Linked DNA regions of Homo sapiens. The protein of the gene in region 2 interacts with the protein of the main gene of each other region in a pairwise test. Each region holds a gene or a part of one and is shown on either strand. Other genes may lie near its edges. The genes, in order: TCEANC, VBP1, FGF1 and EFHC1.

Evidence for each region.
Region 1: the proteins of VBP1 (region 2) and TCEANC interact in binary tests that used the Homo sapiens proteins (3 or more experiments, as listed by UniProt).
Region 3: the proteins of VBP1 (region 2) and FGF1 interact in binary tests that used the Homo sapiens proteins (3 or more experiments, as listed by UniProt).
Region 4: the proteins of VBP1 (region 2) and EFHC1 interact in binary tests that used the Homo sapiens proteins (3 or more experiments, as listed by UniProt).

What each region holds. Positions count from the first base shown.
Region 1 is NC_000023.11:13,655,286-13,663,140, forward strand, and holds part of TCEANC (transcription elongation factor A N-terminal and central domain-containing protein), read left to right. Parts: intron 1-3; 5' UTR 4-88; intron 89-4,366; 5' UTR 4,367-4,401; coding exon of another isoform or gene 4,402-4,483; intron 4,484-5,745; 5' UTR 5,746-5,837; intron 5,838-7,215; coding exon of another isoform or gene 7,216-7,223; coding exon 7,224-7,855.
Region 2 is NC_000023.11:155,211,663-155,219,840, reverse strand, and holds the start of VBP1 (prefoldin subunit 3), read right to left. Parts: upstream 3,359-8,178; coding exon 3,266-3,358; intron 1-3,265. UniProt on the Homo sapiens protein: Binds specifically to cytosolic chaperonin (c-CPN) and transfers target proteins to it. Binds to nascent polypeptide chain and promotes folding in an environment in which there are many competing pathways for nonnative proteins.
Region 3 is NC_000005.10:142,591,914-142,599,768, reverse strand, and holds the end of FGF1 (fibroblast growth factor 1 isoform 1 precursor), read left to right. Parts: intron 1-4,284; coding exon 4,285-4,479; 3' UTR 4,480-7,591; downstream 7,592-7,855. UniProt on the Homo sapiens protein: Plays an important role in the regulation of cell survival, cell division, angiogenesis, cell differentiation and cell migration. Functions as a potent mitogen in vitro. Acts as a ligand for FGFR1 and integrins.
Region 4 is NC_000006.12:52,451,072-52,458,926, forward strand, and holds part of EFHC1 (EF-hand domain-containing protein 1), read left to right. Parts: intron 1-1,616; coding exon 1,617-1,766; exon of another isoform or gene 1,767-3,023; coding exon 3,024-3,216; intron 3,217-7,855. UniProt on the Homo sapiens protein: Microtubule inner protein (MIP) part of the dynein-decorated doublet microtubules (DMTs) in cilia axoneme, which is required for motile cilia beating.

The DNA.
Region 1 (7,855 bases), about 140 Mb from region 2:
CAGGAGTATTGTGAGGATTGAGATGACTGGAGTGTGTGTGGCCTGGAGAGTTGCTCAATAAATATATGTTGCCTTCCACTGTGAAGAGGTAAGTGAGAGGGTGAATATCAGGAATTGTGTACATTATGACACTTAAAATATTACAGTTGTCATTTGTAATTTGTAGAGAAGGTTGTCAGCTGCATTGTACACAGTAGGTGTTTTAAATCTTTTCTGACTGAATGGGACTCATCTAGAAAAGCCAGTCATAGAGTTGTCTGCATTCGGTCCAGGAGCAGAACCAGAGCTGTCTTTGGGGCTGATGGCAGCCTAACTGGCAGGTCCTGCTGGGGTGTGGAAGAGGGTTGTATGCCTGTGTGTGGTTTAAATCAGAGTCACCCTGGAGAGCTGAGCCAATATGCAGGCCCTACCCTCAGAGATCCTAATTCATCCTATCTGGAGTGAGGCCCTGCCATTGTTTGTTTTTGTTTTTTGTTGTTTAATTTCCCCAGAGGATTCTAATGTGCAGCCAGGCTTGAGAACCACTAATGGTGAGAGATCAGCCAGGCTCGGGATGCTGCTTGAGCAAAGGCACAGAGCCGTGCCCATCAGTGGTTGCGAGTAGTCAAGAGGGAGGCCTGCTAGGGCTCTTTTTGCCACTGGCCAAGGAGCTTTGGCTCCATCATGAAAGCAAGGGGAAACCTCTCAAGGGCTTTCAGCAGGAAAATGAGGGAGTATCTTTCTGAGATCTGTACTAGAGGATGATCCCTCTAACAAAGTGCCAGACTCACAGTTGGGCCTTGTGAGTGCCAGAAGTACAGTGAAGGCAGTAAAGAAGCAAATTGTAGCTGTCCAGATGATGGCGAGCCCAGATAGGGTTTGGTGCCATCCTGCGTGTGTTTCCCCTAGCAGCCAGTGTCTGTCCATGTTGAAATTCCACATGTGTTGTAACTGGCCAGTTTCTTGTCAGTATTACTCCCACTAGGCTATCAGCTCCTTCAAGGCAGAGACTGTCTCTTTAGGCTCAGCATCTAGCACATACTCAATCCCTAATATATATTTATTGAATGAACTATGTAGAACTAAGCTGGACATATGCCTTACCTTGTCTTTTTATGGCAATTGTCAGAATTTTGTATTTCAATGGCTTCCACATTATACCCTCCTAGGGCAATAAATCCTTTATATCCACATGATGGTCCCACAGAGGACTAGAAAGTTTGACTGGATTTAAATCCTGTTAAAAATGTGGAAGGGAATGGAAAACAATACAGTGGGTCCTCAAAAAATTAAAAATAGAATTACCATATGATCCAGCAATTCCATTTTTGAGTATATACTCTGAAGAATTGAAAGCAGGGTCTCAAAGAGAGATTGGTATACCAGTGCTCACAGCAGTGTTATTCACAATGGCCAAAAGCCAGAAGCAACTCAAGTATCCGTTGACATTTGAATGGATAAACAAAATGTGTTATGTATAGACAATGGAATATTATTCATTCTTAAAAAGGAAGAAAGTTCTGACACATGCTACAACATGGATGAACCTTGAGGACATTATGCTAAGTGAAATAAGCCAGTCACAAAAAGAGAAATACTGTATGATTCCACTCACATGAAGTACCTAGAGTAGTCTCATCCATAGAGACAGAAAGTCGAGTGGTGATTGCCAGGGGCTGGAGGGAGGGAAGAATGAGGAGTTGTTTAATGGGTGCAGAGTTTTCAGTTTGGGAGGATGAAAAGAGTGCTGGACATAAGCATCTTGATGGCAGGGACTGTGTCTTTTCAAAAATCCATGGGCTCTGTTTTATAGCACTTGATATTAAATAATCACCACCGAACATACACAGGCTAAGAACACTGAAGTGTTTAGAGAGAGAATTCACACAATCTTCCCAGACACCATATGACAAGTGACATAAAACATATTTACCTTTTAGTAATTCTACTTCTGTGAATTCACTTTAAGGAAACGAGAGATGTGGAGACCGCATATGTACGCATTTTCTTCAAACTTAGGAGAAACTGGAAGGCCCCAAATAGGAGAATGATTAAAAACTATCGCAAACTCCTAGGATGATCCAATAACATAACCATTTAAAAATCGTGTTTTTAGAGAATATTTAATGATGTGGAAAAATAGTCCTAAAGCTAAGTGAAAAAAAATCAAGATGCAAAACTATATGAAAGATTAAACAGTTATATAATCCAGCAGATTCAAGATAAATGAAAACATATGTCCATGCAAAAACTTGTACACAGGCCGGGTGTGGTGGCACATGCCTGTAATCCCAGCACTTTGGGAGGCCAAGGCAGGTGGATCACCTGAGGTCAGGAGTTCGAGACCAGGCTGGCCAACATGATGAAACCCTGTCTCTACTAAAAATACAAAAAGTAGCCGGGCGTGGTGGCACATGCCTGTAATCCTAGCTACTCAGGAGTCTGAGGCACGAGAATCACTTGAACCCAGGAGGTGTAGATTGCAGTGAGCCAAGATTGCACCACTGCACTCCAGCATGGGTGACAGAGCGAGACTCCATCTCAAAAAAAAAAAAAAAAAAAACACACACACACTTGTACACAAATGTTCATAGCAGTATTATTCATAATAGCCAAAAATGGGAAATAATCAAAATGTCCATCAACTGATGAATGGATAAATAAAATGTGGTTTATCCACACAACATAATATTATTCTGCCATGAAAAGGAATGAAGTACTGAAAATGCTACAACATGGATGAACCTTGAAAACGTTATGCTGAATAGAAGAAGCCAGATACAAAAGACCACATACTGTATGATTTTATTCACATGAAATGTCCAGACAGCAAATCTATACAGACAGAAAAAAGATTAGTTGTTGACTTGGTGGGGTGGGACAGAAGGGCAGTGGAGTGAAGAAAGAGGAGTGGCTGCTAAAGTGCAGGGATTTTCTTGGGGGGTGGTGGCACAGATAAATCTTCTAAAGTTGATTTATTTGTGGTGATGGGTTACACAACTGTGAATATACTAAAAGCCACTGAATTATACACTTTAGGGGAATTGTATGGTATGTGAATTACATCTGAATAAAGGTGTTATTTAAAAATAGAATCTGGTCCAAATTTTACTTAAGAATTACATATGGAAAGACTGAAGAGATACGCAAAATTTTAAAGAGGGGCATTTTCTGAATGGTGAGATTTTAGGTAATTTTCATTTGTTCTTTTACTCTTTTCTGTATTTTCTGTGATGAGCATGCATTGTTTTCATAATCAGAAAAGTTATTGGTCTAATATAATTTCATGATAAACTGTATACATTTAAGATACTGAAAAATGGTATGGTGAGAAATGAATCAATCACCTTCTACCCACCTTCCCTCTGAAATGTGAATATCGTCTCTTAAGAGTGGCTATATCACCTGTGGCTTTGCATTCAGATAAGTATTCATAATTGCCTCAGAAATCGATTACTGCATCTCAAACAGGTGCATCTCCCCTCAAACTTTATCCCCAAATATGAAGAGTTAAGTACCCTTACATAACCAAGAGTCTGAGTCCTACATTTTTAACCACCAGAGGGAGCTGGAATGTAGAAAACCTGGGGCAGTCAGTTTTGTTTTGTTTTAAAGTTAGTTTCACAAAGGGCCATCAATTCAGGATCTTATGTAATTTTCCTAATTATTGTGAACCAGCACTTAAAAGATAATTCTTTTTTGCCTTTTTAAAATTCCACTTTTAAAGACTGCATACAGTAAAAGAGGTCTTCCTAAGAATCAAACTCTTAATAAACAACAGGCAAGACAGCACAGAAAAATAAAAAATATTCACACCCTCTATTAGCGAACATTTCTCTCAGAATTGTCTGCTTCAGATCTTGAAGTCACGCAGTTGTGTCACAGTGATAAAGTTTCAAGTTATTCAATATACTTGAGCCCTCCCCGACTCGTTGAAAAGTTTCCTAACAAAGAAGAAACATTCAATGTGCCTGCATTCTATATGCATTACTATTGAAATCAGGATGGAGGTTTGCTAGGCATTGAGAAAGATGGTGAATAAGAGATGGGCCTACAGCGCCCAAAAGGAAGTTAAGCAATATTTGACTCAGGTCAGAATTTCTCAACTGAAGGTCTGAGTTTCAAGGTAATTCTTAAAGGGAATTGTAATTATAGCTTCGGGGTTTCAGTGGGGTGAAAGCAGCAATTTGTCTTACCAGCAAAATGAGTAAATCTATAGAAGTTAATGTATTTATGTATAAACAACCAAAAAGCACTTTGCTCTTCATTTTATATGTTCTTTTATTGACCTTTTCTTCATATTTCTTTAAAAAATTTTAATTGTGATAAAATATACAAAACATAAAATTTACTGTGTTAAGCCCTTTTTTTTTTTTTTTTTTGACAGAGTCTCGCTCTGTCGCCAGGTTGGAGTGCAGTGGCATGATCTCGGCTCACCGCAAACTCTGCCTCCCGGGTTCAAGCAATTCTCCTGCCTCGGCCTTCCGAGTAGCTGGGACTACAGGTATGCGCCACTACATCCAGCTAACTTTTTGTATTTTTGGTGGAGACAAGGTTTCACCATGTTGGCCAGGATAGACTCGATCTCTTGACCTCATGATCCACCCACCTTGGCCTCCCAAAGTGCTGGGATTGCAGGTGTGAGCCACCACGCCCAGCCTGTCTTAAGCCTTTTTAAGTATACAGTTCAGTAGTGTTATGTACATTCTCGTTCCAGAGGGGAGGTGGGTAGAAGGTGATTGATTCATTGCTCATACCATTTTTCAGTAGGTATATCTTAAGTGCATATAGTTTATCATGAAATTGCGTTAGACCAATAACTTTTCTGATTATGAAAGCAATACATGCTCATCACAGAAAATACAGAAGAGGAAAATAACAAATGAAAATTACCTAAAATCTTACCATTCAGAAAATGCCCCTCTTTAAAATTTTGTGTATCTCTTTTCAGTCTTTTCACATGTAATTCTTAAATAAAATTTGGATCAAATTCTATTTTTAAATAACACCTTTATTCAGATGTAATTCACGCACCATACAGTTCACCTAAAGTGTACAATTCAGTGTTTTTTAGTATACTCAGTTGTATAACCCATCACCACAAATAAATCTTGAGAAGATTTATGTGTGCCACCACCTCCCAAGAAAATCCCTGAACTTTATCAGCTGCTCCTCCTCCTTCACCCCACTGCCCTTCTGCCCTACCCTACCTAGTCAACAACTGATCTATTTTCTGTCTCTATAGATTTGCCTGTTTTGGACATTTCATGTAAATAAAATCATACAATATGTGGACTTTTCTGTCTGGCTGCTTCTGCTCAGCATAATGTTTTCAAGGTTCATCCATGTTGTAACTGTATCAATACTTCATTCCTTTTCATGGCAGAATAATATTCTGTTGTGTGGATAAATCACATTTTATTTATCCATTCATCAGTTGATGGACATTTCGATTATTTCCCATTTTTGGCTATTGTGAATAATACTGCTATGAACATTTGTATACAAGTTTTTGTGTGGACATATGTTTTCATTTCTCTTGGATCTGCTGGGTCATATGATAACTGGTTTATTCATTTATTTATTATTATTTTTTTTTAGACAGAGTCTTGCTGTGTTGCCCAGGCTGGAGTGCAGTGGCACGATCTTGGCTCACTGCAAACTCCGCCTTCCAGGTTCATGCCATTCTCCTGCTTCAGCCTCCCAAGTAGCTAGGACTACAGGTGCCCGCCACCACACCCGGCTAATTTTTTGTATTTTTAGTAGAGATGGGGTTTCACCATGTTAGCCAGGATGGTCTCGATCTCCTGACCTCGTGATCTGCCTGCCTCGGCCTCCCAAAGTGCTGGGATTACAGGGTGAGTCACCATGCCCGGCCCATATGTTAACTGTTTAGTCTTTTATATAGTTTTACATCTTGATTGTTTTTCACCTAACTTTATGACCATTTTTCCATGTCGTTAAATATTATCTAAATACATGATTTTTAAATGGTTATATTACTGTATCCTAGGAGTGTGCCATATTTTTAACCATTCTCCATTTAACCATTTGAGGGCCTTCTAATTTCTCCTTAGAAGAAAATTCTTACATATGCAGTCTCCACATCTCTCATTTCCTTAAAGTAAATTTATGGAAGTAGAATTACTAAAAGGTCATTATGTTTTATGTCACTTGTCATATGGTGTCTGGGAAGACTGCGTGAATTCTCTCTCTAAACACTTCAGTGTTCTTAGCCTGTGTATGTTCGGTGGTGATTATTTAATATCAAGTGCTATAAAACAGAGCCCATGGATTTTTGAAAAGACACAGTCCCTGCCATCAAGATGCTTATGTTCACATTTAGACCAGACAGATAAATATAGATCCAAGGGTATTATATAGACAAGATTATGTACATTATGTGGAGGGAAAAAATAGACTGCATAGATAAAAGTAAACATTTGCCTGCCTAGGATGAAATTCACACAGACATAATCATTGAGCAACTCTTTACACTTAAAAATTTTTTAAAAATTAACAAAACCAAAATGTAAGAACCAGTTAGTCTAAAGTCATAAATCATCTGGATCATTGAGTCTGAACCTTTCCCTTGTTCAGAAGACTCCTAAGGCAGCACAGTGTAGCCTGTTGGCTTTTGGGACCCGCAGACGTATCTCTAGCTGCTTTTCAACCTGTGCTGTCTCACATTTTCCTTAGATTGCTTGAGACATTAGCAAACCCTTTCTGTCTTGTTTCTCTTTTATTTTCAGAAGAGTACCACTTTAAAGATTATGAAATGAGCAAGTAGTTCAGTTATATAGCTGACTCTGGGGAAAAATTGTCTAGCACTGTTCAGCATTGCCATATTGATGCTGACACCGGCATGATTTCACCTCCAACATGACCACCGGATTCCGCCCAAATGGATTGACTAATCTAGAAAGATCATTGATTTGTAAAATTGGAGGTGGAAAAGCTATAGCAGATCCTCCGGCAAGCCTCTTAAGCAGATGTTATGTAGAGGCTCTGCAATGCTGTTTGTTTGTTTTTCACTCGTAGGAATTAAACTCTTGAGAGTAAACCATACCGTCACCTTAAAGATTCCATTTTCTAGCGTGTCGCATACATTTGTATTACATGACTCTTTCGGAAAACATTGCCTAGGTAACTGACAGAAAGTGCTATTTTAGTATCCAGAAGCTGCGACTAGCAACGGCAAACTTAAGAAAACTGAAACCTCTTTTTTCTTTGCAGCTGTAAAGATGTCTGACAAGAACCAGATAGCTGCCAGAGCTTCTCTTATTGAGCAACTGATGTCCAAAAGGAATTTTGAGGATCTTGGCAACCACCTTACTGAGCTAGAAACAATTTATGTGACTAAGGAGCATCTCCAGGAGACAGATGTGGTCAGAGCTGTGTACAGAGTCCTCAAAAACTGCCCCTCTGTGGCTTTGAAAAAGAAAGCCAAGTGTTTGCTATCAAAGTGGAAAGCTGTTTATAAGCAGACTCACTCCAAAGCGAGGAACAGCCCTAAATTATTTCCTGTGAGGGGTAATAAAGAAGAAAATTCAGGACCTTCTCATGACCCAAGTCAGAATGAGACACTGGGCATCTGCAGCTCGAATTCTCTGTCTTCCCAAGACGTTGCAAAACTCAGTGAAATGATTGTGCCTGAAAATAGAGCCATTCAATTGAAACCTAAGGAAGAGCATTTTGGGGATGGTGACCCTGAATCCACTGGCAAGAGATCGAGTGAGTTGCTGGATCCCACAACACCCATGAGAACTAAATGCATAGAGCTTCTTTACGCAGCTTTAACTAGTTCTTCCACAGATCAACCCAAAGCTGATTTGTGGCAAAACTTTGCAAGAGAAATTGAAGAGCATGTTTTTAC
Region 2 (8,178 bases):
TCAGATTTTCAGATTTAGGATGCTCAACCTGTAGTTATAAAAAGTTAGAGACAATTTCAGATGGTACATATATATTATATAGCTAATTTATTCTTTCACTTTCCTCTTCATTTTTTATTCAAAAATAGGAAAAGAAGAATGACCTTGCCCACCACTTTATGCATTTCCCATGCATCCCTAGTAGTAAATATGAAACTAACAATCAAATACATTGCCTATTCATGCATCCTATTCACAAAATGATTTTACAGGTTGCATGTCAAGATTATCAATTTTATTACTTATTTTTAATTCAACAAGTTTTACCATAGAAATCATACTAAATATGGTTACTGGGTTCCCAAGGCAATCCACAAATGCTTCCTTCAGTATCAAATAACTGAAACAAAGTAAACCTAAAAGGCAAACAGAATAATCTTTTGTAACAGTAATAACTGATCAAAAGAAAAGCAGTAAAACTGATGTTAAAATATTTTTTATACCACATGCTGATCCTTGAAGAAAGGCTAGTTAATTAGATAAGGATCAGAAACAAGATGAAAATATATGAAACTTAAAAGAGATGCTACAAGAGTCGTCTAGTACTTTACAGAACTCTAGTTCTTTATTATAAGTAACTTCAATTATCTTATAGCTTCTAAGATCTTCACATCATTATTCTTATCCATATTTACTAGCTACCAGAGAATATCTTAGCTGAAACAAGGAAGAAAAAGGAAGAGAAACACAGCAAGGGAGTGAACTAAGAAGCCATCAAACTAGACAGTAAAGGAAATTGAAAAGGTGAGGCTGAGAGATAATGGCTGAGTTCTGTATGTTAAAGAGAGATGCCATCTTCCTAGAAGGGTCACTGCAGGGAAGAGAAAGAAGTGTAAGTTTCTGGCACATGATACATGTTATCAGGTGCTGGAGTTTAGCAAGAATTAACTATAGCGGCATAGGCTGTGGTTAAGAGACAGGAGGTGCCTGGTTTGAATCCCAGCTTCGCCACTCATTAGATGAGTTGACCTTAGGGAAGTTATTTAACCTCTCTTTGCCTCAATTTCCTCATCATCTGTACAAGTACCTTTTCGTCACCAGGGATTAAATGAGTTAGCATATGTGAAACGCTTATAAGAGTACGTGACACCTATGTATAGCATAATGTGCCACAGGGACACAAAGTGCCAGGGATTTTGTTTTGGGGTAGAGGTCAGAGAAAACTACAGGGAGATGATATCTGAACTAGATGTGGAAAGATGAAGAGGTCATGAAATGGACAAGGGTGAAACAACAATTCAAGCAGAGAAAGAAAACAAATTACTGCCTCAGCGGGGTTGGGGAATGGACTGGGTCTGACTTCTAACCACTATGGTATATTGCTTCCTATCATCATGAATATTAATACCTATTCGACACCTACTACACTGCAATACTGCAAGCATGTTCTCTGTTTCCCATAACAACTCTCTAAGTATTGTCATCCCTATTTCAGTTAAAGAAACTCAAGCTCAAAGTGGTAAAATAATATGCTTAAGGTTAAGCAGCAACTGGGAAGCAGAGCCAGGATTCAGACCCTGGTCTATTTAGAGGCCAATAATCTTTCTACAATACCATGTCACTTCAATTATTAATAGTTTGGAAACATAAACAGTTATATAAAATTTGGGTTGCTTATTACATTATGTTGGTAGAAATTTTAAGGTCTAGAAAAAAATAACCACGACATTGTAGGGAAAAAGCATTTCAAGACATTATAAAGCCCTCAGATAAAGTGTCTCCTCCCGAGTTAGATTTCTGACGCCATCTCTAGCTGAGCACCATGAATGTAACATTTAAGGCCCTATGGAAATTCAATTAGACACTTAGTTTGAGCTTATACTATGTGTGAGGCACTATGCTATGACCAGGAGAAGTAGGGCGATTCATGAGAACTACCTCACCTCCTCCCAGTAGCAGAGCATGAGGGGTAAGCTGCCAGTCTGGACCTCCACGGATTGTCCAAGTTCAAACCCTGGATACCTCACTTACATCCTGTGTGGCCTGGGGCAAGTTACTCAAGTGCCCCGTACCTCAGTTTTATCATCTAAAAAACGGGCATAACAGTAGTAGCTACCACCTCGAGTTTTGTAAAATCATTAAGAAAGTGCCTGGCACTCAACAAATTTTATTCCTTGTTATGGTTAGATAATAGATCAATGTAGAGAAATAAATGACACAGCTCATAAAAACACAAAATAATAACCAATTACGAAATTCAATCAGCAAATGCGAATATACAATATCAAGTGTGGTATAAATAAATGAGTCTTTAGAAGGATATAAGACGTAGTTAGTAAAAAAAAGGCAGAGGTAAGGTAAGGTACAAACCAAAAGATTGAGAAACTTCCATGAAGATTTTATAGTAGCTAAGTGGGGACAGACAGATGACCTGGCCTGGAGGGCCAGTCAGATGTTTTCTCTCATTAGTCAAATAGTTTTCAACTACTATTTCTAAATTAAATAAATAAAATAAAATTTTTAAAAAGCCACCCAGCACAGGCAGCGCCCTCCAGAACGGCCTGTGGAGCAACCCGATCCCCTCTAGGACACTAGCGAACCTGGGACCTAGCGCCATCAGGAGGGTTCAGCCTCCTCTCTCAACAATTCATTCTCCACTAAGTTGTTAGAATGATGTAGTTAAAACGAAAGGCCTTCTGATGACAGCCCGTTGCCTACTGGAAAACCTCAATTCCTTAGCAAGACACAGAAGGACTTTACACTCCCAACCTATCATCCTATTTTCCCATCGGTCTCTTCTTCCATTTCCCGAGGCAACATTCCCGAGACCACTGCATTCCTTCAACAGACAAAGTGATATTCCCGGTTTTCACATCTTAGCACTGGCTGTTCTGCCTATTCATTGTACTGTGTCTCCAGCATCCATGCTGAGTCGAGAGCTCCTCACCACCTCCCCTTTTCCAACCAGCAGGGGGACGAAAACCGGCGGCAGCCCGGAGGTCCCTCAGGCCGCCCTGCCCTGCCACCCGCCGCCCCTCGCCCCTCGCCCCTCGTCCCGGCCCCGCACCCCGTTCTCTTCTACGGCCTTCTCGAGCTACGTTTCTTCCGGGCGGGCCCCCAGCAGAGCTCAATCTGTCCAGGTGCGAGGGGTGAGAGCAGACCGAGCGCCCCCTCCCTGAACACTTGGCTCAGCTCCTTCCAACAGTCGAGGCCTGGGTGGGAGCCGGGAAGAAAGGGGCAGTCCAAGGCCTCAAGCCAAGATGCCAGGGAACAGCGTGCCTCTTACCACAAACACGGCCTCAGGAATCCCCAGGTGGAGCCGCCGCCCATTCCCTGTGGCCATTTCTCCTTTGCCACAACTGTCCTTAACGGCCGCCATCTTGGGGATGCGAGCGCGCGACTGCCTCCCGGGCCGCCGGCCGCCGGGATTCCGTGATTGGCTTGTTCGCACTTGCAGGCCCGCCTCTCCATCTCCATGCACATTCATTGGTGCGCAGGGAGCGTCCCCCACAAGTCCCCGTTCTCCTTTGGCCGAAAGTAGCCCAACCTCTAGGTGCTGATTGGCTGCGCTCAGGTAAGTGACAAGCGTGGAAGGGCCGCGAAAGAGAAGCTGGAGCGACAGGAAAAACCCATACGTCCTCCTGGGAAAAGGGGTCTTGTGAGTGAGCGGTGCTAAAGCCCTAGGAATAGGGACCTAGCCTGACCCCACCCCGACCCTAGAACTGGCAGCAGCCTTCGCAATGGCCTCTGGAGCGACCCAATCCCCTCTCTCGGATGCTAGCGAACCTGGGACCTAGCGCCATCACGAGGGTTCAGCCTCTGTGCCTTTCTGGTCTCACCATCCCAGGGAGCTTCCTGCCCCTTGAAGGGAACTTACTTTGTGTCTGTTTCAGAGTGGTCACTGGCCTCATTCTAATAAATACCCTGCCTGTCGCACCAGCCTTTCCTGAAAGCCACCTTTGATCAGAATGTCTTCTCTCCAGCTCAAACGTTTCCAAAACTTCATAGTCTACATACAAAATCCTAAGAACTCCACCTAGGCTTCTAGGCCCATGGACTTACCCAATGTCATCCTACACTACAACCCTTTAAAAGCACATGTGTCATACAGAACCAAGTAATTATTCTTCGGGCTCTTTTCTGTGCTTTATTTCACTGGAGTGTTTCCCAGTGAGGCAGTGCTTCATCCACTTGCACAAATTCTACCATGAGCCTAAGAATTACGCAATGGAAAGTAAGTCTCTCTTCTCAGAGGCAATCACTGTTACCGGTTTATCTCCGCACATAATGTACGATCAAGCATATAGACATAGATATGTCTTTAGATATAATATGAGGAAGAAATTGGTATCGTCATATTGTGAATGAGGAAACTAAAGCTCAGTGAACCTGTACAGCTCCTCCAAAATCCTACAACTACATAGTAGTGAAGCCGGAATTCCAAACTAGTTCTCCAGTGGCTTCTATGCGATTTGGCTTGGGAGGATGAAGACATGTTAGCTAACCATGACTCTGACCTTTTCTGGTCAGCAGTTTTGTAAGATAATGTCTCTGTTCCTGGAGAGAAAAGTATATGGGAATTCTATTCTTCACCACTCTCCCCCACCTCAGTGCCTTCCAAAAAAAAATTTTGTTTTTGAAAAGTAGGTAACGTTTCTACAGAAAAACATTGAGATATCAGATACACATGCAAATTTTGTTCAACTTCACTGATCCCTATCTATATTAATCATTGTTAGAACCAATCAAGGACTTACTTCAAACTTTAGGAAATATTTCTCCAAATTATCACTAATTTTAATTTGGAATAAATCCCTCTAAGAGATATAGTATTTGACACTTCGGGCCAGGTTTTTCTTTTGGAGCCAAAAGCCTTATCAGCTTATCGCTCATGTTTTACTCCCTTACAGGTACAAACAGAAGATTCCCTTATTTATACTGCTGAATATATTTCCTTTCTAGTGTTCTCTTAATTAGAAAGTTGTATACCAATTCTTTCCTTCCTGCCATGGCTGCAGCAGCTTTTCCAAGAGTACACTAACCTTATCAACTCTATAGGTGGTCATTTTCTTATCTCTTAGCAAAAAAAAAAAGGAAAAGAAAAAAAAAAAAACCTTCCTCTTGCCAGATCCAAATCTAGCTATTACCTGACTAAATATGATTGGTCTTTAGCAACCCTTCAGTAGCCCACACCTTTTACAGCTTATCTTTAGATTGCTTTAATAAAAGCATTTTTTAAAACAGACTTTAAAAGGTTGTAGTTTTTCACCATGGACACTTTTGAAACAAAACAAAACAAAATGTAAAGAAAATACGCATACAACAGGAAACAGAACAACTTAAACAATCATTTCACGTAGTGTTGTGCTGATAAATGTTCAACTAATTCTCTTTAGAAAGGGGGTATATATTTATTATAAATTGTATTGATGTAAAAGGTGTATAGCACACAATTTCATAAGTGATAATAAAATATACAATACTCTTTATCGTTAATTCTGTATAACCAATTCTGACAGGATGCTTTTGATTTTTGCCAAATACATATCTCCCTAGACAACCTACAGTTGCAATTGATGAACTAGTGTAGTTCTGACATGAATGTTGCTTGATATTTTCATTTATGTTAAGTAATAAGAAAAAAGTAATTCAACAATTATTTTTATATTGGTACTTGGATCATTCATCAACAATGTGAGTGATTTATTTGCTGAATTGGATAATGGTTTTCAAATACCAGAAAAATATTGCCTCATTTTATGGTGCTGTTCACAATAATGGCTACAGACACAACTCACTTTTAAGCTGAATCTGCATTAGTAACATTTTCTCCATTGCTTTCAAGTCTAGAGTGACAAACATAGATCAAGCCGTAGTTTGTAGCATCTACCAATTTCTGTAGCCTGGATACTCCCACAATGGCTGATTTCAATCCATGTCGAGTTGGGAGGACATGCCCAGTAGCACACAGATACAATCGATGTAAATAACCTCAAGAGCATAGGTAACATTCAAATGTCGAAAAATAATTAGAAGGTGATAAATTTTGAATATTTATTACCTTTGCCTTTAAAAGAATTTAATTGTAAATTTTTATAATTTAATTTTAAATGATGGCTGTGTTTAACAACCATCTTGCAGAATTTCTAGAAATTTAACAATTGGTTCTCACAAGCTGGTACAAGCCAGCTCTGGTGCACCACTGGCTCATATTTTGGGAAGCCAGAGTTTAATGACTTCAGTGAATAGTACCTGTAAATGTCACACTAATGTGCTCTGCAGAGAAGGAAGAAAATGATGTGACATACAATTGGAGTCCCCTGGAAGAAGAGGGTGATATCCTTAGCAACTTCCAGAACCCAGATAACCAAGAGTTGACTTAAATTTGTACAGCCGGGAACCGACAACAACTCTCACTCCATCTTTGCCTGGAAGCTTTGTGCAGGTAACAGGTTCTGTCCCAATCTCCACAAGCCTCTGAAATTACTCTGAAGAGCTGCAAATCCTGAGGCTGGGGGAATGTGTCTCCTTTTTCCTGAGCCTGGTCACTGGGGTCATTTCCTCCCAGGAAGCCCACTGGGAAAGAGCCCAAGGCCTTCAGAGAGATGCCAAGCATTTCAGGATGTTCTGAGACAGCCTCTGCTCGACCTTCTGATTCAGTTTCTAATCCTGACTTCTGAGAGCAGAAAGTGCAGTTTCCCCTAGGGGCTTTGGAACTCCCCTGGAGGGCACTCAACTGTGATAGTGCTCCTGCATGCTAAGCCACCCCAGCCTCTTGGGGCTATTTCCTAGTAAGTCAGAATACATGTGTATTCTATTTCCAGACATGCCAATGGGCCTCCATACTCACTACCCTGGGTTGTTGAGTGTGCTGGTAGTGTTCTCACTGTGTATTGTTATTGTATCTTCAGTGTTTTTGCTCTGTTTATACAAGAGAGGACAAGGTAGGATTTTCCTAGACAAGGTAAAATGTGGCAATGTGATTTCCTTTTTCCTGGGACTGATGTTATTTATCCAAGGTGATGTGGAGAGGTCCTTTGTTCAGGGAACTAACCCTTCTGCAACCCCCACCCCACCACCTCATCTGCCAGAATGATGGCCCTGGGGACTCCCAGACATTACCCTGCTTTATTTCCAGAATCCATTTCTAGGCTTGCCACTGTGTAATAGGCCCTAGAACTTGGGTTCTAGTTTAACCCTGTCATTTAACAGGCTGTGCCTCATTAGACAAGTGTCTTCACCTATCTAGCTCAGTGTCCTCACATGTGAAATGTGAGCTTTGGACTAGAGGATCTCCAGACTCACTTCTAGTGCTAATACATTTTGACTACGACCTCTGGTGAGTCATCAGGGCACTAGTACTAATTCTGCATCCCATGGTTGTCACTAGATCCCACTGGATCCTCCGGGTTCCTTCTGTAACTATGCAATTCTCAATTTAGAAAACCTGATCTTGGGCCCCAAGGTGAGTAATTACACCCTCCAAATCCCTCTGCCCCCATGTCCACCCAAGCTCTTCCTTTCCAACCAAACCCAATAAAAAGCATGGATGTAAAAAGGTTCAAACTCTGCTTTCATGTTCCTGAATCTCCTTTGGGCCGGACTCCTTAGGATACATGAAGACCTTCAGTATAAGCCATGGTAAATTCCCAGTCACAAGTTTTCCTGTATAATAATTGGGAGAGATGGTGCATTTCCAGCACAATGGTTAAGGCTAAGAGCATGCACTTTGCAGTCAAGCTTGATTATTTATTGGCTATGGGATATTAGGTTAGTTACTTTAACACTGTCTCAGTTTTCTCCATTGTAAAATAACCATAATAATAGGGCTTTGGGCACATATTATTAAGTAGATTGAATGGAATTACACATAATAACATACTTGATACTGTGCCCAGTACCTAGTAAGCCCTCAATAAATTTCAGCTACTGTCCTGATAATTGAAAGGCATGGATATGGCACAGAATAAGAAACTCAAGGGTTTGAGACATGAGCCATAACATGTCATGATAATGGCCTCATGATGGGGAGAAATCACACAGCCTGCTCATAGCATGGGAGATCTGCAGGGTCCCTCAGATAGACATCTGTTTTAAATCCCTCACAGCCTCCTGGGGAGGAAGAAGGGCTATTCTTCACATATACAGATAAGAGAGAGCATTCAGTCTGGCTCAGGACTAACTCCTAAAACATTGGAG
Region 3 (7,855 bases), on a different chromosome or scaffold from region 2:
GCTAGTGCTTTATACAGGTTTGACCATGTATAGATAGGTCTTTATGGGAAAGGAATAGAAATAGAGGCAATGTGATTTTGCCCCTATTGGTATCTCTGTGACAGGAGTTAACTGGAGAGACAGCTTAAACCAATGACTGCGGGTTTTGAAGTTATTTCTAGATTTTAATGTTCCCTCCTCTGTATCCTAACAGTTGATAAACTAAGGCTTGGCTGTAATTCCTAGCCCAATCCACACCCCTTTCCTCCCTTTTATGAAGATGTCTTCAAAAAGACAGTCAGTAGGGGGAATTTTAGTCTGGAGCTTCAACTTACATCGAATTGCCAAGTGACAGAGGGCACAGAAACCCTCTCTTGAAGTTGTCATCTCAGCCAAGGGTCCCAATGTGAACACAGCTTCGTTTCCTCTCACTGCCCACTAGGGATCAGGAGATTAAATCATCAGCGTAATAGGTAACCTCTAAAATGCTATGTGCTCAGTACAGATCACCTGGGACGGCTTTAAGGGGTTTGGCAGTAGGGGATTTTTTTAAGGTAGTTCTTCCAAGTGGTAGTAAAATCAATCCATCAGTCAATCGCTTAGTCTCAGACTCATGATTGAATCTCACGCCTCTGCCACTCTGGCAAGTCACTTACCCACTCTGAGCTTTGTCTAAAATGAGGACAGTCATGGATCATAACCGCCTCACACAGAGCGTACATGGGTTCAGTGGTGCAACACACAGAATGCGCCCATCAGAGTGGCTGGCACGTCACAGACCAGTGGTGGCTGTAAGACAAGTCATCAGCTTAGAAGCCCCTCACCCTCACTGTGTCTTAGGTTATGCCACAGTTTTATGGCTTTTCCCTCTTTAAATAAATTTTGACGTTTATTGTAACCTGCTTTCACTTATATAAAAATATTGAGGGAGAACTCCCAGAATCTAATTTCCGATAGGCTCCAGGCACCCCCTTCTCCCACCATAGCCGTGGCCATCACTACAATTCACCTGAAATATGATCTTAGTATATTACGCCTAAGAATGTTTGCATTTTCCCCATTGATAAAGAGAAGTTCTAAGATATCTCAAAGCTCTGCTTCATGCTCTTCATAAAATTTAGGCACTAATCCATCCTGATTCAAACTTGTGTGTGTGGAAAGGATATGTATATTTTTTTTAAGTTTGAAAGGCTATATATCAAAATACTGATATAGTTATCTCTGGGGGTGGAGAATGGGTGATTTTATAATATGTGAATAACTTCCTGTATTTTCCAATTTTTTTTTTACAGTAAGTATATGTCACCTATGTAATTTAGGGTGGGAGGGGAAACATGCCAAATATAAAAAAGAAGACAATTTAAACAATAGACATGAATCAATAGTTAAGCCACATGTCTTCAGCATTGTACCAAGTGCATAATGAGTGCTAACAAATCCTGGTGGAGGGACGGAGCACCGCTGATCTGGCCTGCTGACTCAGCCTGTGACTCAGCTATTTTGTGTGTGTCAACTCCTCCAGTATAATAGAGACATCAGGTGGGGAATGTGGCCATCCTCACCTTCGTCACAGAACACAGGCCTGATGCCCACTATGAGGTGTCAGGCATGAGTCCTCCCTACAAGGGAGTGGGCAACCCACATAGGTCCAAGCTGTCTACCTCCTTCTACCCCCAACAACATGCATCAAACACGAATGTCTGCACCAAGTTCCTCTAGAGGCAGCAGAGTCATCCAATAAAATATTATATTTATATCTCATCTTGTTCCAATATGATCTAAAGTGTCTCACCCTGTTGTCATTTCACTAGATTATGAATGAATAAGAAGCAGGATACTTCCTGTTACACAGTTCCTTACTAAGAAAGGCTGACTTTACTGACTGCTTTATATTATCTCAAGAATCAAATTAAATGCATTACTTAGCTGGTGAGCACCTATTATTTGCAAGGCTCTGTGTCTGGGGGATGGAGAGAAGACCAACAAGATTCCATCTCCTTCCTCACTAGGGTTTATAATCTAAAGAAACAAACATGCTCACACATAGAGAACAATGAACAATATAATTGGAAACCGCCAGACAGGGAATCACCAACCACTGTGGGTGAAGAGAGACTGCAGGGGTCACACGACTTGAAAAAGGCAAAGCAAAGTCAGATGTCTCAGTTCCAGCATAAGTGTTTTAATATACCTGTTTTAGACCCAAATGTAATAAATATATTCTAAGATCTTGACGAATAGAAAGTTCAAAAACTGAGTTCCCCTTCCACCAACAGATTGACTACAAGTAAGCAAAATAGTGGTTGCTGGATTTTTTTCAAGTAACTGCACTCTTTAATACGTTGTGGCTGATTTTCAACTTAATAAATGTACAGCTGCACTGGGTTCTACTGTACGGATATTCTTTTACCCACTTAACCAATCACCTTTCCATGGACATATAGGTTACTCCTAATCGCTTGCCCCTATAACCATTGGTTCAGAGACCATCCTCAAAAATACAGTTGTACACTTACTCAACCATCTCCTAGGGGTAGATTCCTAGAAGTGAAATTGCTGAGTCAAAGGTAATACATCTTGTAAATTTTGATACATATTGCTAAATTGTCTTCAGAAAGTTTCCACTAATTTTTCTCGCCAACTGTGCATGGCAGTGCCTAGTTCCCACATTCTAAGTCTTGCAAATGGTTTTTTATCTTTGCACAAATTTTTTTTTATCTTTGCACATAGGATAGCTAACATATGATAAATAATTTTTAATTTGCATTTTTCTCGTTAGCAGTATTGAATGTTTTCATAGGTTTGTTGTTCATTTTTAAAACATCAAATAAAACATGACATTTTGATGATATCATAAGTCTATATCCATATAGCCTTATCTAGTCTGTATGTACATAAAGAGATGTAAGGCAGGATGTTTATCAGTGATTAACAGTTGCCTATATCTGGGTGGTGGGTTTTGGGATAGTTTTTTCTTTTTACAAAGTAAAGGTATATTTTTAAAAGTACAATTCTTCTTATAAGTAGCATTTTTATTACTCTTTAGAGACAGGTTCTTGCTCTGTCACCCAGACTAGAGTGCAGTGGTACAATCATAGCTCACTACAGCCTCAAACTCCTGGGGTCGAGCAATCCTCCTACCTCAGCCTCCTAAGTAGCTAGGAGGACAGGCACACACCATGGCACCTAGCTAATTAAAAAAAAAAAATTGTAGAGAATGGGTCTTGCTATGTTGCCCAGACTGGCCTCAAATTCCTGGGCTCAAGCAATCCTCCTGCCTCAGCCTCCCAAAGTGTTGTAATTACAGGCACACACCATGGCACCTAGCTAATTAAAAAAAAAAAAATTGTAGAGAATGGGTCTTGCTATGTTGCCCAGACTGGCCTCAAATTCCTGGGCTCAAGCAATCCTCCTGCCTCAGCCTCCCAAAGTGTTGTGATTACAGGCACACACCATGGCACCTAGCTAATTAAAAAAAAAATTGTAGAGAATGGGTCTTGCTATGTTGCCCAGACTGGCCTCAAACTCCTGGGCTCAAGCAATCCTCCTGCCTCAGCCTCCCAAAGTGTTGTGATTACAGGCATGAGCCACTGTGCCTGACCACAAGTAGCATCTATTTATAAGATTCTTTTTATAAGTAGCAAAAAATAAAGCTATTTTCATTTTAAAAAATCTACATTCTAGGATATGTTTCATGCTTAGGATAAATTTTGCACAAGCATATCTTCATAACAATACTCAGGTAAAATCCTGACGTTAGTGAAAATCACCAGGATAAAAGGCATTTTAGCAGCTTTTTGTTTATTCTTTAAGTCTAGCCTTCAAGTTAAAACAACAGCAACAACAACAACCCACTACATCACAGTCTGGTTTTTACCTATTTGGAATGTTTTTCCATGGTCAGGCCTGTGTGCCAGGCCACTACAGAGATGAAAGATCCAGCCCTGCCCTCAAGGTACTTACAGTCGAGCAGAATGTCCCCAGTGGGAGATTCTAGAGTCCTGAGGACTCTTAGAAGTGCTCTTATCAGTAGCATCTTAATTACTTTACAATGGATTTTAAATGGAAAGGAAGTTTACAATAATAGCAAATGCATATTGACAGCTCTTTAGTGCCCGGTGCTGTTCTAAGTCCTTATGACTACCCTGTGAAATAAGTTCCACCATGACCCCAATTTTCCTGAAAAGGAGACTGAGGCATGGAGAGCTTTAGTATTTTGCCCAATGTCACACAGCTAGTAAATGGGGACCCCCATGTGAAACTACTCACTGATTGTCCTACTCTCTTTTGGTTTTATCTTTTTAGCAGACACCAAATGAGGAATGTTTGTTCCTGGAAAGGCTGGAGGAGAACCATTACAACACCTATATATCCAAGAAGCATGCAGAGAAGAATTGGTTTGTTGGCCTCAAGAAGAATGGGAGCTGCAAACGCGGTCCTCGGACTCACTATGGCCAGAAAGCAATCTTGTTTCTCCCCCTGCCAGTCTCTTCTGATTAAAGAGATCTGTTCTGGGTGTTGACCACTCCAGAGAAGTTTCGAGGGGTCCTCACCTGGTTGACCCAAAAATGTTCCCTTGACCATTGGCTGCGCTAACCCCCAGCCCACAGAGCCTGAATTTGTAAGCAACTTGCTTCTAAATGCCCAGTTCACTTCTTTGCAGAGCCTTTTACCCCTGCACAGTTTAGAACAGAGGGACCAAATTGCTTCTAGGAGTCAACTGGCTGGCCAGTCTGGGTCTGGGTTTGGATCTCCAATTGCCTCTTGCAGGCTGAGTCCCTCCATGCAAAAGTGGGGCTAAATGAAGTGTGTTAAGGGGTCGGCTAAGTGGGACATTAGTAACTGCACACTATTTCCCTCTACTGAGTAAACCCTATCTGTGATTCCCCCAAACATCTGGCATGGCTCCCTTTTGTCCTTCCTGTGCCCTGCAAATATTAGCAAAGAAGCTTCATGCCAGGTTAGGAAGGCAGCATTCCATGACCAGAAACAGGGACAAAGAAATCCCCCCTTCAGAACAGAGGCATTTAAAATGGAAAAGAGAGATTGGATTTTGGTGGGTAACTTAGAAGGATGGCATCTCCATGTAGAATAAATGAAGAAAGGGAGGCCCAGCCGCAGGAAGGCAGAATAAATCCTTGGGAGTCATTACCACGCCTTGACCTTCCCAAGGTTACTCAGCAGCAGAGAGCCCTGGGTGACTTCAGGTGGAGAGCACTAGAAGTGGTTTCCTGATAACAAGCAAGGATATCAGAGCTGGGAAATTCATGTGGATCTGGGGACTGAGTGTGGGAGTGCAGAGAAAGAAAGGGAAACTGGCTGAGGGGATACCATAAAAAGAGGATGATTTCAGAAGGAGAAGGAAAAAGAAAGTAATGCCACACATTGTGCTTGGCCCCTGGTAAGCAGAGGCTTTGGGGTCCTAGCCCAGTGCTTCTCCAACACTGAAGTGCTTGCAGATCATCTGGGGACCTGGTTTGAATGGAGATTCTGATTCAGTGGGTTGGGGGCAGAGTTTCTGCAGTTCCATCAGGTCCCCCCCAGGTGCAGGTGCTGACAATACTGCTGCCTTACCCGCCATACATTAAGGAGCAGGGTCCTGGTCCTAAAGAGTTATTCAAATGAAGGTGGTTCGACGCCCCGAACCTCACCTGACCTCAACTAACCCTTAAAAATGCACACCTCATGAGTCTACCTGAGCATTCAGGCAGCACTGACAATAGTTATGCCTGTACTAAGGAGCATGATTTTAAGAGGCTTTGGCCCAATGCCTATAAAATGCCCATTTCGAAGATATACAAAAACATACTTCAAAAATGTTAAACCCTTACCAACAGCTTTTCCCAGGAGACCATTTGTATTACCATTACTTGTATAAATACACTTCCTGCTTAAACTTGACCCAGGTGGCTAGCAAATTAGAAACACCATTCATCTCTAACATATGATACTGATGCCATGTAAAGGCCTTTAATAAGTCATTGAAATTTACTGTGAGACTGTATGTTTTAATTGCATTTAAAAATATATAGCTTGAAAGCAGTTAAACTGATTAGTATTCAGGCACTGAGAATGATAGTAATAGGATACAATGTATAAGCTACTCACTTATCTGATACTTATTTACCTATAAAATGAGATTTTTGTTTTCCACTGTGCTATTACAAATTTTCTTTTGAAAGTAGGAACTCTTAAGCAATGGTAATTGTGAATAAAAATTGATGAGAGTGTTAGCTCCTGTTTCATATGAAATTGAAGTAATTGTTAACTAAAAACAATTCCTTAGTAACTGAACTGTCATATTTAGAATGGAAGGAAAATGACAGTTTGTGAAAGTTCAAAGCAATAGTGCAATTGAAGAATTGACCTAAGTAAGCTGACATTATGGTTAATAATAGTATTTTAGATTTGTGCAGCAAAATAATTTCATAACTTTTTTGTTTTTGTTACTTGGATAAGATCAATCTGTTTTATTTTAGTAAATCTTTGCAGGCAAGTTAGAGAAAATGCAGTGTGGCTTAACGTCTCTTTAGTATGAAGATTTGGCCAGAAAAAGATACCCAGAGAGGAAATCTAAGATAATTATAATGGTCCATACTTTTTATTGTATGAATCAAACTCAAGCATAACATTGGCCAAGGAAAATTAAATACCATTGCTAACTTGTGAAATGGAAGTCTGTGATTTCGGAGATGCAAAGCATTGTAGTAAAAACACCAATGTGACCTCGACCATCTCAGCCCAGATATCATTCATATATCTGTTCAATGACTATTAAGGTGCCTACTGTGTGCTAGGCACTGTACTGGATACTGGGGACCTTGTCTGTCTGGTTTGCTGCTGTATCTTCTCCCAGGGCATTATATTTATGATGAAAGATGCTGTGGATTCAATTCTTTCAGTCAAGAATAAACACAGACTTTGTAGGTTCCTGCTGAATAAAGCAAATCCCAGAAACCCAGATTTTGGAAGAATCAGCAACCCCAGCATAAAATAAACCCCTATCAAAATGTCAGAGGACATGGCAAGGTAAACTTAGCATTTTCAACTTTAGAACCGGGTCAGCTTCAGGGGGACTGCTTTCAAATCAGCCAAAGAGCCTGTCAGATCTTCTTAGAAGGAAGAGGTTGGTAGTTCCCTGCTCTGTTTTGAACATGCTCTAGTTTATTAACCTGGGGACATTCCCATTGCTGTCTTAAGTAAGTCTCATAGCCAGCTCCTGTCACGTGACTCTCATATGGATTCATTTTCGGGCCAGCTCTGAACAAAGCATCATGAACATATGTGCTTTTGGTCGTTTGCAATGTGATGGTGGTGGAGGTAGGTATTGGTTTCCTTGGAAGGCATGATAAGAAAGATTCACAATGGCCAACAGTGTGTATGAACAAAAAACTGATTGGAGCATCAGCTAGTACTGAAGGTCCTTGCTTTGTGTCAGAGGCAAAGGAACCCAAGGCGCCAAGTCCTCAGCCTTGAGTGTACTGCTGACAACTAAACTCACAGGCTGCAAAGCAGACCTCTGATGAAGATGCCTGTTATTTCACATCACTGTCTTTTTGTGTATCATAGTCTGCACCTTACAAATATTAATAAATGTTCCAATAATAGGTGATAATGTCTCTGAGTTTCTGAGCATCCTGCTGCCTCATCTTTCTATCAAAGGACCTCCCCAGCATCCCTGAGGTGTGGCTGCTTAGTTTTCGATACTTACCTTGTTACCAGATGTCAGACTTTAAAGGCTAACAGGGAATGCGAAGGTAGAAACATTTTTCAATGTGTTTGGAAACAGAAGGCAGTATGGGTGATTTTCTACATTTCTGTTAGGGTAATATACATATACAGGAAATTCGCCTCCTGAGGAGCCAGGCACCATAAA
Region 4 (7,855 bases), on a different chromosome or scaffold from region 2:
TTACAGGCATGAGCCACCATGCCTGGCCTCTGTGCCTTTTAAATGGGGCCTTTAGCCCATTTATAATTAAGATTAGTGTTGATATGTGTAGATTTGATCCTGTCATTGTGTTGTTAGCTGGTTATTATGCTGGTTTGTTTGTGTGGTTGCTTTATAGTGTCACTGGTCTGTGTACTTGTGTGTTTTGTATTGGCTGGTAATGGCCTTTTCTTTCCATATTTAGTGCTCCTTTTAAGATCTCTTGTAAGGCAGGTCTGGTGGTAATGAACTCTGTCAGCATTTGCTTATCAGAAAAGGATCTTATTTCTCCTTTGCTAAGAAGCTTAGTTTGGCTAGATATGAAATTCTTGGTTGAAGATTTTTCTTCTTTAAGAATGTTGAATATAGGCCCCCAATCTCTTCTGGCTTATAGGGTTTCAGCTGAGAAGTCCAGTGTTAGCCTGATGGGGTTCCCTTTGTACGTGACCTGCCCTTTCTCTGTAGCTGCTTTTAACATTCTTTCTTTCATTTTGACCTTGGAAAATCTGATGATTATGTGGCTTGGGGATGATCTCCTTGCATAGAATCTTGCAGGGATTCTTTGTATTTCCTTAATTTGATTGTTGGCCTCTCTAGCGAGGTTGAGGAGGTTTTTGTGGACAATATCCTGAAATATGTTTTCCAAGTTGTTTGCTTTCTCACTGTCCCTTTCAGGAATGTCTGGTGAAATTTGAGCACTTGGTTTGTCTTTCCTATTTTGCTAACACGTTTTCTGGTCTAATATAACCAGTGGGTATGCTTTCTTTTTTTTCTTTTTTGGTGAGGGGAAGGGACTTAATCATATACAGTATTTGTTTTAAGTGAATTAGAAAATTGGGAATATGATTTCAGCCTAACTTGGCCATTGTGCATCTTGCCTCCAGACCTAATAGGAATTACATATTGTTTGAAACCATGGTTAGGTTCCAGATATATGAAAGTAAGCAATCCTAAGACTTACTCTGTTACAGGCACCTAACTAAATTTGATTGATTTAAATTATTTGAAAACAGTTATTTTGCCATTGTGCCTCCCAACTAGCTTAGCAAATACCTAGCAATATAACAATATAAAATACTTCAGGTAACTCTCAATTATTACCTGCATTATGGAGTTGGCTCAGTTGGAGACTTAATACAGCTTACATGCGCTCAAGCAGCAAACTAATGTTTAACTTAAGCAATGGCATAGAAATCATTATTACACTTTTTCTTTCTTTTTTTCTTTATTTGAGGCGGGGTCTTGCTGTGACGCAGGCTGGAGTGCAGTGTCATGATCATGGCTCACTGCAGCCTTGACCTCCTGAGCTCAAGCAGTCTACTCACTTCAGCCTCCTGAGTAGCCTGGACTGCAGGCAAATGCCATCAAACCAGTCTAACTTTTAAATGTTTTTGTAGAAACAGGGTCTCACTATGTTGCTCAGGCTGATTGTGAACTCCTGCGTTTCAGGAGTCCTCCTACCTCAGCCTCCCAAAGTGCTGAGATTGTAGGCCTGAGCCACAGTGCCTGGCCCATACACTTATTTTTATATAATCAGTTTATAACTTACTCTGAAAAGCTCCAAGAAAGATGATCATTGTTAACTTTCAATTATTTAGGTATTTTTAGAAAGCCAAGGAATTGAGTTAAATCCACCAGAGAAGATGGCTCTTGATCCTTACACTGAACTCCGAAAACAGCCTCTTCGTAAGTATGTCACCCCATCAGACTTTGATCAACTCAAGCAATTTCTCACCTTTGACAAACAGGTAAGTGACATAGGAACCACAATAGGCTTACTTATTTCCAAATGTGACCTACATTTATTGGCAAAAGGTTTGGGTAGCTGTATTGGTAACTATTTTGAAACATTACAGCTATAATTGAACTGTTTGGACACAGTACTGTCTTTCTGCTTTCATCAAGGGTTACAGGTACAGGAATGCCTACATTTCATATGGAGATCCAAAGAAGATCGTGGAGTTGCGGAGTTGTTTTGTGAACCTCACCAAACATTTAAATCTCAAAGCAATTCCTGAGCTACATCTGCTTCCCACCTTACGTTTCCAATTGACAATTTCTTTCCCTTAAAATGAGCTAATTTCATAGACTCCTTTGTGAAACCATAAATCGATTATTAGGAAATTTCACAAATATGCATACATGTAGGTTGTAATGTTAAAATGTTTAATTTCACAGAAGCCCCACTACAGATGCTTCCTTGTTAAATGTTATATTAATATTGGAGTCCAGAATGTTCTGAGCATTTTCCAACTCTGTTCCAACCTTCCTAATCCTCTCCCTTGTGAGCTGATGTGTATAAGCAGATTTAAATCCTTCCCTTTCTGTACTAAAGGGAGAAAGAAAAGGAAGAGATCACCCTCAGTGCTTCTTTGCTGCTCCTTTTCTTTAGACATTTAACCCCTTTTAGTTCAGAAAATGTAAACTAGCACTAGCATGGTCTTTTAAGGATTTTGTTCATATCAGTCATATATCTGTTATTATTTTGTATTTAAAGATTGTGTTTATTCCCACGATTTGAAGAAGCCTAGCCAAAAAAAAAAAAAAAAAGATTGTGTTTATATTATTGCTAGAAGATATGTGTTGATGGGACCAAAAAAAGACTGGTTAATAAATAAAAATTTTTTCTACACTAATTATATATAAACCATATTCACATGTACCTTTATTAATATATATATACCACTATGTAAAGAACTTCATTGCTCTTTTAATTTAGCTTCTCTTTCACTGACTAATATTTTGGATCAAAGTGAGCTCTTCTTTTTTGGCACAAACTTATAATCCTATTATTTAATTCTTTCCAGCTGCTGACATATAGTACATAATTTCAGATGTTTTAGTATGTTTGATGAATATTTCTTTTTTTTTCAATTTACCCCATCTGAAATTACTTCATAGTCTTTCCAGCTAGTCTTTCCATCGTTGATACATAATTGCCAAAGTAGCCAAGTTGAACTCCCTACTTTTAGGATTCTTGAGTCACTACTTTGGATTCTTCAAAGGTCCTTCGATTCTATGCAATCTGGGATGATACAGACAGCATGTATGGTGAATGTCGGACCTACATCATTCATTACTATCTTATGGATGATACGGTGGAAATTCGAGAGGTCCACGAACGGAATGATGGGAGAGATCCTTTCCCACTCCTAATGAACCGCCAGCGTGTGCCCAAAGTTTTGGTGGAAAATGCAAGTATGTTTGATTCAGTTTATTCTCTGTTACTTGGGATGTTTTTAGGTTCTTAAAGGAGTTACTTAATCAGTATGCAAAATTCGTTTATACTTGGAAGCCTCTAGCTATTTTTGCTTAGATGCTCAGAAAATGGCTTCCCACAGCTTTCCTCCTTTACTTGCCCCTCGGTCCAGGCGTGCCCCCAAGACAGTCTGGTACCCAGGTCAAGGAAACAAAACCAAAACAACAGTGGGAGATTTATTTAAAGTGCAGCAGAGCAAGGTTTCTGAACTGAAACAATTTAATATTAGATTTTTAATGCATTTTTCAAACAGGCTTGTTTTCATTCAAGGATATGAATGAAAGCTTAGCTTTTCTTTATATGCTTTCCTGACTTTGCTTCTCACTTCAACTACTTCCTAAACAGGAAGTTTCTATGTGGTTTAACTTGAGATTGGAAAAGGCATGTCTGTGACTCATAGAGGTGAGGTCCATTGTGTCAAACCCAGCTCATTCTTTACTGGTTTAAAATTACCTAGCATGGGCTGGGCATGATGGCTCACTCCTGTAATCCCAGCACTTTGGGAGACTGAGGCGGGTGGATTGCTTGAGCCCAAGAGTTTGAGACCAGCCTGGGCAACGTGATGAAACCTCCTCTCTACAAAAAATACAAAAATTAGCCATGCTTGGTGCCGCACACCTGTATTCCCAGCTACTTGGGAGGCTGAGGTGGGAGGATCATCTGAGCCTGGGAGGTCGAGGCTGCGGTGAGCTGTGATTGTGGTGCTGCACTCCAGCCTGGGCAACAGTGAGATCCTATCTCCAGAAAAAGAAAAAAAGTTACCTACCATATTTGAGAGTGGCAGTGCAACAAAATGGCAGCAAATACCTGCTGTTCACTGTTTCCTGGGATGAGTAGGCTTGCTTTAGTTATTGTCTTAGTAGTTTTTACATTTCTCTTAGAATAATGTCATCTTGGTCACATGTAATGACTGATAGCTCTTATGTTTGGGTGGCTGACAGGATTCTGTAAATGTGTTCACTGATTTTTTTTTCTTTTTACTATATTTTTTGGGAATTAGGATATAAGAAATTTCAGGTATTGGGGCTGGGCACGGTGGCTCACACCTGTAATCCCAGCACTTTGGGAGGCCAAGGCAGGTGGATCATGAAGTCAGGAGATCGAGACCATTCTAGCTAACATGGTGAAACCCCATCTCTACTAAAAATACAAAAAATTAGCTGGGCGTGGTGGCGTGCACCTGTAGTCCCAGCTACTCAGGAGGCTGAGGCAGGAGAATTGTTTGAACCCGGGAGGTGGAGGTTGTGGCGAGCCAAGATCGTGCCACTGCACTCCAGCCTGGGTGACAGAGTGAGACTCCATCTCAAAAAAAAAAAGAAAAAGAAATTTCAGGTATTGAGCAAGAAGTTTGTCTACATTAGAGGTTATAAATAAATGTGTAGTCTGAGGCTAAATTCAACGTGTCTGTACATATTGCTTCACTTGCACAGTGCTTTTTTATGAAAAATGCAGTATTATTTGTGGGCAAGGAGTTGGAGGTTTCCATCATTGAGAGAATGGATAAGCAAAAATGTAGTGAAGGTACATTTTGATTAATATACAGTAGTTAGAAGCAGTAAACAAGATGTACACAGAAAGCAAGTGGATGGATCTTAAAAACATAGTGCTGTGTAGGAAAAAATACATGAAATTAGATATATAATGCTATAACACATGCAAAACATAGTACACGTAGGACACATTCAGTCACATAGCTGCATTAGAATGATTGCATGTGAGGAGAGGAGAATGAGATTGGGGAAAAGGATAAAAGGGAGTGAAAATTGTCATCATTTTAGAATTAGGAAAGTTTATGTTATATATTTTTTTAAAAAAATGAAAATACTGCTAATTCAGCTTGTATTCTCAAATAGAAACAACTGGATCTGTGCCCTAGTTCAACATAGTTTGGCTTCTACCTACTATACATATTCTTATAATCAGTTCTCTACAGAACCGTCTTAGAGTTCAATGACAATGGGACTAATATAGTAATTTTGGCCTTTCAGAATGCTTAAACAAGCCTGAAATCCATGCAGTTCGGAGCTAACAAACATTAGATTTACAATAGATAAAGAAAATGGATAGGAATATATTCAGGGTGGCATGAAAAGTCTCACTGAAACTAAATCCCTTTAAATGACAGATTCCAGGTTTGTCTCTGCTTTATCAATGTGACCTATATTGAAAACTTAATATATAATTATCCTCTTCTATAATTTCCCAATTAAAAATTTTTTATCAAAGTTGCATGGAGAGGCAGCCTGGTGGCATATATAGGGTTCTTTTAAAAAGTAGGAAACAGGCTGGTCGCTGTGGCCGAAGCCTATAATCCCGTCACTTTGGGAGGCCAAGGTGGGAGGATCACCTGAAGTCAGGAGTTCGAGACCAGTCTGGCCAACATGGTGAAACCCCCTCTCTACTAAAAAATACAAAAATTACCTGGGCATGGTGGCAGGTGCCTGTAGTCCCAGCTACTTAGGAGGCTGAGGCAGGAGAATTGCTTGAAGCCAGGAGACAGAGGCTGCAGTGAGCGGAGATTGCGCCACTTCACTCCAGCCTGGGCAACAGAGCAAGACTCCATCTCAAAAAAAGAAAAAAGGTATCAGTCATGAGGTACAGAAAAGGCTATGTTCCCATCAGCTACATAATTCCTTTAACTAGAAGGGTAGTGTTAAAAGAATGATGTCTAATTGACTCTCAAAGGCATTTATCCAATGGGTGATTTTTATTAAATTCAATTAAACAAGAGGTAAATAATCTGCTATGGGAACCATTTCACATGCTAAATGCTATGGAGGACAAAATGTAACTCCCATTCCTAGAATCCTATCTTTCAGTCATTTCTAGTGTCATTAAGAAGACAAGGCATATAAAATACACAAAGCTGTTAAGTAATAACATGAGTATACCAGATTATCTGATTATGTAATTAGTTAAGTCATGCAGACCGAGGTCAGAAGGACAAAGGTGTGGGCCTGAAAAACTAAAGAAGTCTTTGTGGAAGAGCTGGGATTAGACTCAGATTTAGAATGGCAGAGAACAAAGAGCTCACTAGAAAGAAGAACAAGAGCAAAAGTTGGGAATTAGGAACAAGTATGGCATGTTTGGGGGCGCCCAAGAGATGGTGGCTAGGCAGAGAGTTTGTATTAGACAGTAATAGGAAATTATGGGAGTAACTTTCAGAAGTCCTCTCAACCAGGGCCTCCTTTTAAGTAGCTAAGATAAATCAAAATTATATATTTATAATGGATGGAGTTAAAATATCAGAAATTCAGAAAGTTATTTCTTCGTCAAGGGCAATTGCATATTACCAATAGGTGGCAGGTAATATCAAAACAGGACATCTTTTGACTTAACAAAAGCTTTCTACTCAGCTCTTGAACCCAAGGAACCAGGTTCTGAAAGTCTAAATATGTTAGTTATCCTTCAGACTGGCTTTCATAGTTTGATCTTGCCCTTGCCTGTTAGATGAATCTTGAACACCCCTTAGACCTTTAGTGTTCCAGAAAGTTGAATGTATTTCCTCACTTTCTGTGCATCTTTGTTGGCTCACTCAGTCATTCGAATAATATTAATCGAACATCCATATAGATGAAGGAAACACCATGCTAGGCAATGGAGATCTGAAACTACTATAAGCCCCATATCTCAAAGACTTTACAATCTGATGAGATCAACATACAGATCAATGAAATAGAACAAATTGTCCAGAAATAGATGCACACATATGAGGTCATTTGATTTTTGACAAAGGTAAAAAAGCAATTTGGTGGAGAAATGATTGTCTTTTTAACAAAAGGTGCTGGAACAATTCAATAGCCTATGCAAAAGTAAATAAATAAATAAACTTCAACCCTTACCTCACCATACATAAAAGTTAACCCCAAATGGATCATAGACCTGGGCGACAGAGTGAGACCCTGTCTCAGAGCAGGGGGAAAAAAAAAGCAAATGTAATGAAAACAAAAATTGACAATTGGGACCTAATTAAACTAAAGAGCTTGTGCATTGCAAAAGAAGCTATCAACAGAGGAAACAGCCTACAGAATGGGAGAAAATATTTGAAACAATGCATTTGACAAATGTCTAATATCCAGAATCTATAAGGAACTTAAATCAACAAGAAAAATAACAAATAACCCCATTGAAAAGTAGGCAAAGGACATGAACAGACACTTCTCAAAAGAAAACATACAAATGGACAACAAACATTTTAAAAATGCCCAACATCACTAATCATCAGAGGGATGCAATCATACCAGTCAGAATGGCTATTATTAAGTCAAAAAATAACAGATGTTGGCAAGCTTGCAGAGAAAAGGGAATGCTTATCACTGTTGGTGGGAATGTGAACTAGTTCAGCCCCTGAGGAAAACAGTTTGGAGATTTCTCCAAAAGTAGAACTACACCAATCCCATTATTGGGTATATACCCAAAAGAAAATAAATTGTTGTATCCAAAAGATACTTGTATTCATGTTTATTGCAGCACTGTTCACAATAGCAAAGACATGGAATCAACCCAGGTGCCCATCACTGGTGGATTGGATAAAGAAAATGTGTTAATGGTACATATACACCATGGAATACTATATGG